Linked DNA regions of Homo sapiens: region 2 is reported to be linked to region 1. Evidence: microRNA targets listed by miRTarBase, many of them from high-throughput screens and not tested one by one. Region 1 holds a microRNA gene; the other region holds the end of a gene's coding sequence.

Region 1 (4,369 bases):
ACCTGAGTTCAGGAGTTTGAGACCAGCCTGGCCAACAAAGTGAAACCCCATCTCTACTAAAAATGCAAAAACTAGCATCAGGAGGCTGAGGCAGGAGAATCGCTTGAACCTGGGAGGTGGAGGTTGCAGTGAGCCGAGATCGTGCCATTGCACTCCAGCCTGGGCAACAAGAGTGAAACTCCGTCTCAAAAAAAGAAAGCCAGGGCGTCATAATTATAAGACCGCAGCACCACGGAGACCTGTTGAACTCAAAGGGCTTCTAAATGGGATAGCAAGGTGCTGGTTGGAATAATGGGGCATCCTGTTATAGTAACAGAATCCTGCTGGAGTAACAGGGCGTCTTTCTGGAGCGCATATGATTGGCATCATAAATAGGCCTCCTGTGAGAGTCCTGAGCCTGTACTTAGCATCACAAGGGGTATTTTTAACGTGGCCGGGCATCTTATAGGAGTCAGGGAGGACTGGAGAGGTAGCGGGGAGCGCACTCTGGGAATGCTGTCTGCTGCCAGATGGGGATGCTGAGGGTAGCTGCTGGGCCTCAGGCACCTCTCTTCCTCCAATGTGCAGCCCCAAGCTGAGCTCAGGGCAGCAGCACTGACTGAGGGAAATGTGTGACAGTGGCAGGAGAGCCCAGGAGTCCCTGGTGGGGCTGGGCCCCCCTCTGGCTTGATGGGAGCCTGGGTGCCATGCCAGGGTAGCAGGCTGGAGCTAGAGGCCTCACGGCCATAGGATGGAGCAGGGTGATGAGGGCTTACCTGTGGCCTCCCGGAGTGCCAGGGTCTCGTAGCCATCCATCCACTGGTAGGCGGGGAAGTGGTAGATACGGCCGTTGGGGGCACAGATCTGCACATAGTTGCAGTACCAAGGGTCCTTGGGGAAGAAGGCGTACCGCTCTTTGTGCAGGCGGATGATGATGAGCTCACCCAGGTCCTGAGGGCACTGCACGGTGTACTGGCCCACCTAGGCAGGATGCAAGCCTGGCTGAGTGGGCAGGACTTCACCCCGGCTCCCAGGCCGCCCACCCCTCTGGCCCCTCACCTAGGCCCTGCTCATGCTGCGCAATGCTCACCTCCCTGGACTGACGGAGGGACAGGATATTGACCTGATCATTGAGCTTCCTTCTGACTTCTCCAGCTTGGGGGTCTCCTACTGGATTCCTCTACCCAGGGCTATGTAGGACTCCAGCCCCTCCTTCTCTCCATCCCCAGCTCCTGTCTTCTCCCACTCCCCTCTCCAGGCACCTGAGGTTGCAGGAACCCTTCAGACCCCTGGGGACTTGGGTACCACTCTACAGTTTTCGAGTGGGGAGAGGCCCAGCCAGCCCCTTCTCCCATTCATCAATGAAGATGCAGATATTCAGAATGGCCACATAGATAGAGTGACCTATTAAGGTCGCCTAGCAGCAGGTGGCTGGGTCTGACTGAAAATCAGGTCTGAGGACCCGCAAAGCGTGCCTTCCACTGGACAGGCTGGTCTGATGCCATTTTAAGTCACAGAGAATCCAGTGCAAATGTGAGACAGTTAGGAGGCAGCTGAATTAGGAAGAGTGACTGAGAATGGAAGAGAGAGGGATGCGGGAGAGGGGGTAAGACAGAAAGGGGAGGAGAGCAAAGGGGAAGGAAAGCAGGTGGAAAGGATTGAGAAAAGAGAGATGCAGGATAGGCAGAGACAGGGAGAGAGGGCTGAGGAAGAGGGAGAGAGAAGAAAAGGATGGGGAGGGAGATGAGGAATGCCTGAAAGGGTTAGAGATGAAGGAGCAGGATGGAGAAGGATGGCCCAGAGATCTGGGACATGGGCGAGGGGCTGGAAGCCAGCTCTGGACAAGGCGTGTAGAGCCACTGGGGAGCCCACTGCCTTCGGAGCTGTGCCTCAGCTCTCCAGCCTCTCCTCGCCAAGCTCAGCTCACCTGGCTCCCCCTGCGCACCTTCACCCCTCCCGGGGCCACAAAGACACACAGACACACACAGACACACACAGACACACACACACACACACACAGACACACACACACACACACACACACACACACTCTTACCGCCCCAGTTGCAAAGTCTCTCCCAAAGTGGTTCAGCAGCTGCTTATGGCTCTCTCCTTGTGTCCCCACAATGGTCAGTGAGATGGAGTCCCGTGTTCCCGACAAGAGGTCGGTGCCTGTGGCCACCCTGACTTTGTAGGTGGCCATGGCTGCTCTTCAGGAGGCAAGAGGGGCACTCAGTCCCAGACACCGTGGAGGGGCCACACGAAGGCCCAAGGCAGGCAAGAGAAGCCAGGCACAGAGTGGAGTGGACAGGGCTGGCCTCCGAGGTGCAGTGGTGAGGTGGCGAGGTGGGGTGACTAGGCCTGCCAGCCAAATTCTGGAAAAGCTGCTGCCCTTGGTGGCCGGGGTGGGTGCCGGGCAGGCCCAGGCGGAGCCCAGCTGGTGGTGAGTGAGCAGGTGTCTGGGCTCCAAGCCTTCTGGGAGCTGGTGGGGAGGAAGAGCAGGCAGGGCACTGGGCCTGCCTCTGAAAGGGCGGATAGAAGATGCCGTGGATGAAGGCGCCTTCAGGGTGGGGGAGCCAGTCCAGCCTGAGCCAGGGCCCTAGGGAAGTTGCGGGAGGGGGCAGGGTGTGGTCCCCAGATCTTTATCAGACTAATAAGCTCCTTCCTCCTGCCAGTCCCCATTGGCTACAGTGCCAGGCACCCCTACTAAGCAGGGCCATGGGCAGTGAGTGACTTGCATTGGTTCTGAGGCCACTGGTGGGCGGGGGAGGGGAGGGGGAGGGGCACTAAGTGGCAGCGCAGCTGGCCAGCCTCCAGGCCATTCCTCTCTGGGAAATGGGACAGGTAGTGGCCACAGTGAGAAAGCTGGCCTGTCCTTCTGCCCCAGGGCCCAGAGTCTGTGACTGGAAGGGTGGGAGGTGTTGAAGCTAGGGCTCGGGGACCACATGGGTGCCCAAAGGCCTGAAGATGCTGCGGGGAGGAACGATCAGGGTAGGAGAAGGGGATCTGTTGCTTCCTGTGGGGCCAGGATCCACTGGTGAGGGATTGGAGTTGGATATAAAATCAGAAGCCCAAAAAAAAAAAAAAAAAAACTAAATTAGAAGACAGAGTGAAATCTGGGGCATAAGAATTAAGTTAAATAGCTGGGCGTGGTGGCTCACGCCTGTAATCCCAGCACTTTAGAAAGCCAAGGCAGGTGGGTCACCTGAGCTCAAGAGTTCGAGACCAGCCTGGCCAACATGGTGAAACCTTGTCTCTACTAAAAATACAAAAATTAGCCAGGCGTGGTGGCATGCGCCTGTAGTCCCAGCTACTTGGGAGGCTGAGGCAGGAGAATCGCTTGAACTCAGGAGGCGGAAGTTGCAGTGAGTTGAGATCGTGCCACCGCACTCCAGCCTGGGCAACAGAGCAAGACTCCGTCTCCAAAAAAAAAAGACAAAAGAATTAAGTTAAATAATGGATTAATATGATCAATATTTTGTGGTATAATCATAAAATAGAATTCTACCCAGGAATAAAAAGAATGAACTGCAATGCGGATGAGTCTCACAAAGATGATACTGAGCAAAAAGAGCCAGACATTAAAGGGGATACGTTCTGTTATCCATTGATAGGAACTTCCAGAACCAGCAAAACTGAGCAATTCTCAGACAACCTCTACTGGTGAGTATCCCTGGCAGAGGGAGGCCATATAGGCTGCTGGAGGTGTTCTTATCTTGATCTGAGGGGCGTCTAGGGTACTTCATTCATTTCATTATGTGTTATCCTTTAATTTCATAAAGTACATACCCTCACTTCCCTCCCAAAAAAGAATGAAGCTAGGAAGAGGGCTGGAGGCAGGGCTGAGCTCCAGTGGAACTGTGTTTGTTGGGAACCAGGTCGTTCCTCCCTCAGATATGTAGTGAGCACGGTGCACGGCGTTCTAGGCACTGCAGAGGCAGAGAAGAAATGAAACATACATGGAGCTTACGGAATAGCTGGGAAAGAAGTGAAAGAAACAGTAAACAAGAATTTGTTCACTATAATTTTGGATACTAAGTGCTCTGAAGAAAATAAGCGTGGGAGGTTGGGATTGGGAACTAGTTGCTGATAGAATCACAGAAGTCAGAGCCGCAGGATAGGGAGAAGGTGTTAGGAGTAAGGTGAAGAGCATTATGAGAGAGTCAGAGATAGACTCTCCAAAGATAGGATTTGGGACCCAGGGAGAGTGAGGAGGCAGGCACGTTCCTATTCCCTTTTTCTGGACCTGTCCTCTTTCCTTTCACCTCCGAGGAGCAGCTTCTGTCAACCAGGAAGCATAGCCCTGCTTTCCTCCCTGATGGCACGCTTCCATCACCATCGAAGGAAGGTCATTCAATGCCCAGGCCAAGTTAGGGTCAGAGGGGGCTGG
Region 2 (4,389 bases), not on the chromosome of region 1:
GTGGCCTCTGAGAAGCAGCTCCTTCCCCTTCACCTTGGCCTTGCCCTTCCTGCTCACGGTCCACCATGGAGACGCTGTCCCAGGACTCTCTGCTGGAATGTCAGATCTGTTTCAATTACTACAGCCCCCGGCGCAGGCCCAAGTTGCTGGACTGCAAGCACACCTGCTGTTCAGTGTGCCTGCAGCAGATGAGGACCAGCCAGAAGGATGTGCGGTGCCCCTGGTGCCGCGGTGTCACCAAGCTGCCTCCCGGCTTCTCCGTGTCGCAGCTCCCGGACGACCCGGAGGTCCTGGCTGTCATCGCCATTCCACACACTTCCGAACACACCCCGGTCTTCATCAAACTTCCCAGCAATGGGTGCTACATGCTGCCCCTGCCCATCTCCAAGGAGCGTGCGCTGCTGCCCGGAGACATGGGCTGCCGCCTGCTGCCCGGGAGCCAGCAGAAGTCCGTCACCGTGGTGACCATCCCTGCTGAACAGCAGCCTCTGCAAGGTGGGGCTCCCCAGGAGGCGGTGGAGGAGGAGCAGGACAGGCGGGGCGTGGTGAAAAGCTCCACCTGGTCGGGGGTGTGCACTGTCATCTTGGTGGCTTGCGTCTTGGTCTTCCTCCTCGGCATCGTGCTTCACAACATGTCTTGCATTTCTAAGCGCTTCACTGTGATATCCTGTGGCTGAAGAGGGCTGCAGGGAAGTCTCTTGTGGGTGCCAACTTAGGGGTTGAGCAGGTTGATGATGAGATCCCAGTGAGAAGATGGGGGGCAACACTGACCATTTGGTGCTGAGCGCTGGCCTCTGGGTTGCCTCTTGATTACCCCAAGACAGACACAAAGGGCAGAAGGTGCGGTCTCAACAAGATACCAGGTGAATTGTTCTGAGTGTTGATGGCAACAGCTTGGAAGATGATTGCATGCATCCTCATAATCATGTATTCAATGGACTGTAATTTATGATTTTTCAAAATCATGTTACAAGATAGACATATTCTACTTAGACGTTAAACTGTACAAGTGCGTACAATGTGACCTTCTCTAAATGCGGTAGATTCAAACAAAGATGCTCTGTAGACAAGTAGAATTAAACCTGCGAATCCGTGTAAAAATTCAGTGAAGACATGCACTGCTGGCTTCTTTATTTTTTTTTTCTTTTTATTGAAACCCAGTCTTCATTTAGTTGCTAAGGCTTTTAATACATTTTGAATGGCACCAAAACAAAATAAGTCAAAATGGACAGTCATTTTATTTGGAGGAAATATTTGAACAAGTGTCTCCAATGTGTTGTGTTTTGTCATGAACCTTCATTTTCTTCACTTGTAATTAGAGCTTGCTACGTGTTTATGGAACTGAAAGCTCAACAGGGGAGCAATAAACCGAGAAATCATGAGAAATGTCTAATCCCATGGGAAAACCTGTATGCCGATTTTCCTCAAGCCATCTCACAAAATAAGAATTTCAAATGTAAATATTGTGTATTTGTGTGTGTATGTGTGTGTGTCTAATTTGATTTACCTCAGGTGTTTGAGTCTTTGCTGAAGAATCCTGGGATGAAGACTTCATTGGGCATGAATGAGTCAAGTCTCTGAAGCGGTGGCCACTTCTTGGACATCTTGACCCAGCGAGTGGTCTCCTACACGTCACCTGCAACACTCGCTCCTCTTCTGTGTATTTAAGTCCTGCATTTTGTAAGAGGCAAATGGAGAGTAACAGAAGAGTGTCTTTTCTCCTGGTTTTGGAGTCTTGCACTGGCCATGAGTGTTGTGACTGATGGTCAACCCAGGCGGGCATTTTAATAAATGGCCTGTGATTCTTTTTTGAAAGATGCTCTTCCACAAGAGTTAAGCCAGTTAGAATTCCTGTTTCCTCTTGTTGATATGAGAGAAGATCTCCTGTATTTTAACACGTTTTTACCAAGAAAGGTGGCAAGGTAAACTAACAGCTCAAATTCCCAATATAAGTGGACCAGTTCCTCATAAACTGTCAAATGTTCTTAAATGTGTAATGATCTATAGATGCTCATGAAGAAAGATCTGCTACAAGTACGTGATAAATTCCTATCCCTGGGTGCATGTGCATTCAGAAATAGCTGTGAGCTTTACAGCTCTCATCTAACTTCTTTTATGGAATTCATGAAGCAAGTGGTATGTGACAAGGACTCCACTTATAAATATAACTGTTTTTATGTTCCACTGAATCCCTGAAAATGGTGAGGAGGGTGGGGGGAAGTGAAGGAAAGACAAGCAGGGCTAATTCCAAAAAGCAAGGCTAGAAAATAGCCCTGTGAGGTCAAGACAATTTAATTTATTTACATGCTGTCTGTTATCTTCAAGCAGCACAAAATATGCATATAAAAGTGATGGAATTAATGTGAAATAAAACAAAAATATAATGGCTAGAATACAAAGCTAATACTGCTAATTGGCATGAGAATTCAACATAAAATTGTGAGCTCTGATTTTTCAAATTGATCATAAAACCTTTAGGAAATGTATTTGAAAGCTCAAAATAGAAATTAGGTTAAAATGCCATTTTATTGTGTAAGCTCTTGGGCATTATACAACAAATAATCTAGGATTTATTTGGTATTAATAATTTAGGTGTCATATTAGCTGAATACTATCCTCTATTACATAACATAATATACTGTTGGGTTAGTGTCAATTTCTCAAACTCTCCCAGGCTGCCATAATGCATGTCTGACCTAATTTCTATTTCTCTTGGAGGAAAATACACACACACACACACCACAGAAGTGTTGCATTAAGAATGCTACATTTCGAATAGACTTTGCCCTTGCAATTTTAAGCTATGCCATATTCAGATTAATTTTGTGAGTGATATCTGCATATGTTTCTGTACAGTGTGAAATGACTGACCCTGTAGTATAGTACGTGATAGAGTTCTACTTGTTAAAGTAGGTTAGATATAGACACTAATGTGTGTGATGATAGTGTCCTGTGTTTCTTAGTGCAAATCTGTAGAGTAAAAATGTCCATAGAACTTTTACTTAAAAACAATCCCATGCTAGAGTTGCCATTAAGCAGTGCAAAATTAATCGGCTGTATGGTAGATTCTTGACCTTAAATTTAACAACAACAACCAAAATCAGATTTTTTTTGTGAGTCTTACTGACCTAAGAAACATTGTTTAAATTGTTTAAATGGATCTGCTTGCAGTTATTTGTGTACCTGTTTGTTGGGGTGTGCATTCTTGTGTATGTGTGTGTGTGTGTGTGTGTGTGTGTGTGTGTGTGTGAGAGAGAGAGAGAGAGAGAGAATCTCAGTCTCCCAGATAGAATTTTATAGGCTTAATGATGTTTTAATGTTGCTTGGCATCCCATTGCTCTGGCCTCTTCTGGCATTTACCAATGACCCTTAACAAACACATCTACCCATGTGACCAAAGTCCACTGACACAAGAGGCCAGGATTCATACTTGCACATTAATGAAAAGTCACAACTGGAAAGCACAGAAAGAGCTGAAAGCAGCCTCCGGTGGCTTCATTTTGTAGATGAGTCCGTTTTGTAATTCTGCAGAAAGGGGGGGATATGAACTTCGCACTGCAGTGTCTTCTTGCTCCATCCTAGGTCTGTCTATATCTCTATCTGGCTATGATCCTTTCTAGGGTTGATGAATACCCTTTACTGAGTCAACTATTGCTTTAAAGAATTTTTTTTGTAGGTTTATGTACTCATTTTAGTTAGCATCTACCTCTCTGGGAAAATGAAAGGAGGGTTGACTTAGGGATGAGTATAGATGTTGAAAGACAACTATCAAACCATGTGGTTTGAATTTTTAAAATTGTAAAACATTGGTGTCCAAACCTCCCACCCCACTTGTATGTAAAGGACAGTGAGTGTTGTATAAATAGTAAACTATAAGAAGCATGAATTTTCATCTTTATTAATGATCTTGAAATAAGGAAGAGAATGCTTAATATGTTAAGTAGAGCCAAGAATGCTACTAAGAAGCATTGTCTTTGGAAAAATTTTGTATAATGACTTGGGGCATAAGTTGTGATGAAAAGGCAACTTGGTTTTTGGTTCCAGTCATACTTAATGATCAGAAAGCTCTAAGATGTTTTCTTTAAAAATAGAATTAAGTTTAATTTTTTGCATGGCTTACAGATTGGGTCCCTTGAAGGTTAAACCATGTGATGGTATAACCTGTGAGATCTTCTAGATTGGCACTGTTCAATAGGGCTTTCTGTGATGATGGAAATGCTCGAAAACCTGTGCCGTCTGGTACGGTAGCCACCAGGCACATTGACTTTTAGGCAGTTAAAATGGGGTTACTACAAGGGAAGAACTGGATTTCAAATTTTATTTAATTTTAATTAGCTTAAATTTAAATAGCCCTATGTGTCTAGTGGCTGCCATATTGAACGATGCAGT

The links. Region 1 holds the annotated microRNA hsa-miR-4314 (CUCUGGGAAAUGGGACAG, at 2,806-2,823, shown strand). A microRNA usually pairs through its seed, bases 2 to 8, with sites in the 3' UTR of a target mRNA and lowers its output. Matches are read on the target gene's strand: a 7mer-m8 pairs with bases 2 to 8, a 7mer-A1 pairs with bases 2 to 7 and ends in A, and an 8mer does both.
Region 2: miRTarBase lists RNF152 as a target of hsa-miR-4314. Seed matches in the 3' UTR shown: 7mer-m8 at 3,281-3,287.

The regions. Positions count from the first base shown.
Region 1 is chr17:8,085,261-8,089,629 of GRCh38, forward strand. MIR4314 (microRNA 4314) reads left to right here and starts at 2,796; the gene lies at 2,796-2,887. ALOX12B (arachidonate 12-lipoxygenase, 12R type) reads right to left here and starts at 2,456. Exons shown (of 15, transcript NM_001139.3): 1 at 2,036-2,456; 2 at 756-960. The coding sequence starts at 2,182. RefSeq lists an enhancer at 1,484-2,232.
Region 2 is chr18:61,812,140-61,816,528 of GRCh38, reverse strand. It overlaps RNF152 (ring finger protein 152), which reads left to right. Exons shown (of 2, transcript NM_173557.3): 2 at 1-4,389. The coding sequence starts at 66. The coding sequence ends at 677. Among named protein-coding and RNA genes, the nearest start is that of LINC01544, 66 kb to the right of the region's middle. RefSeq lists an enhancer at 1-302.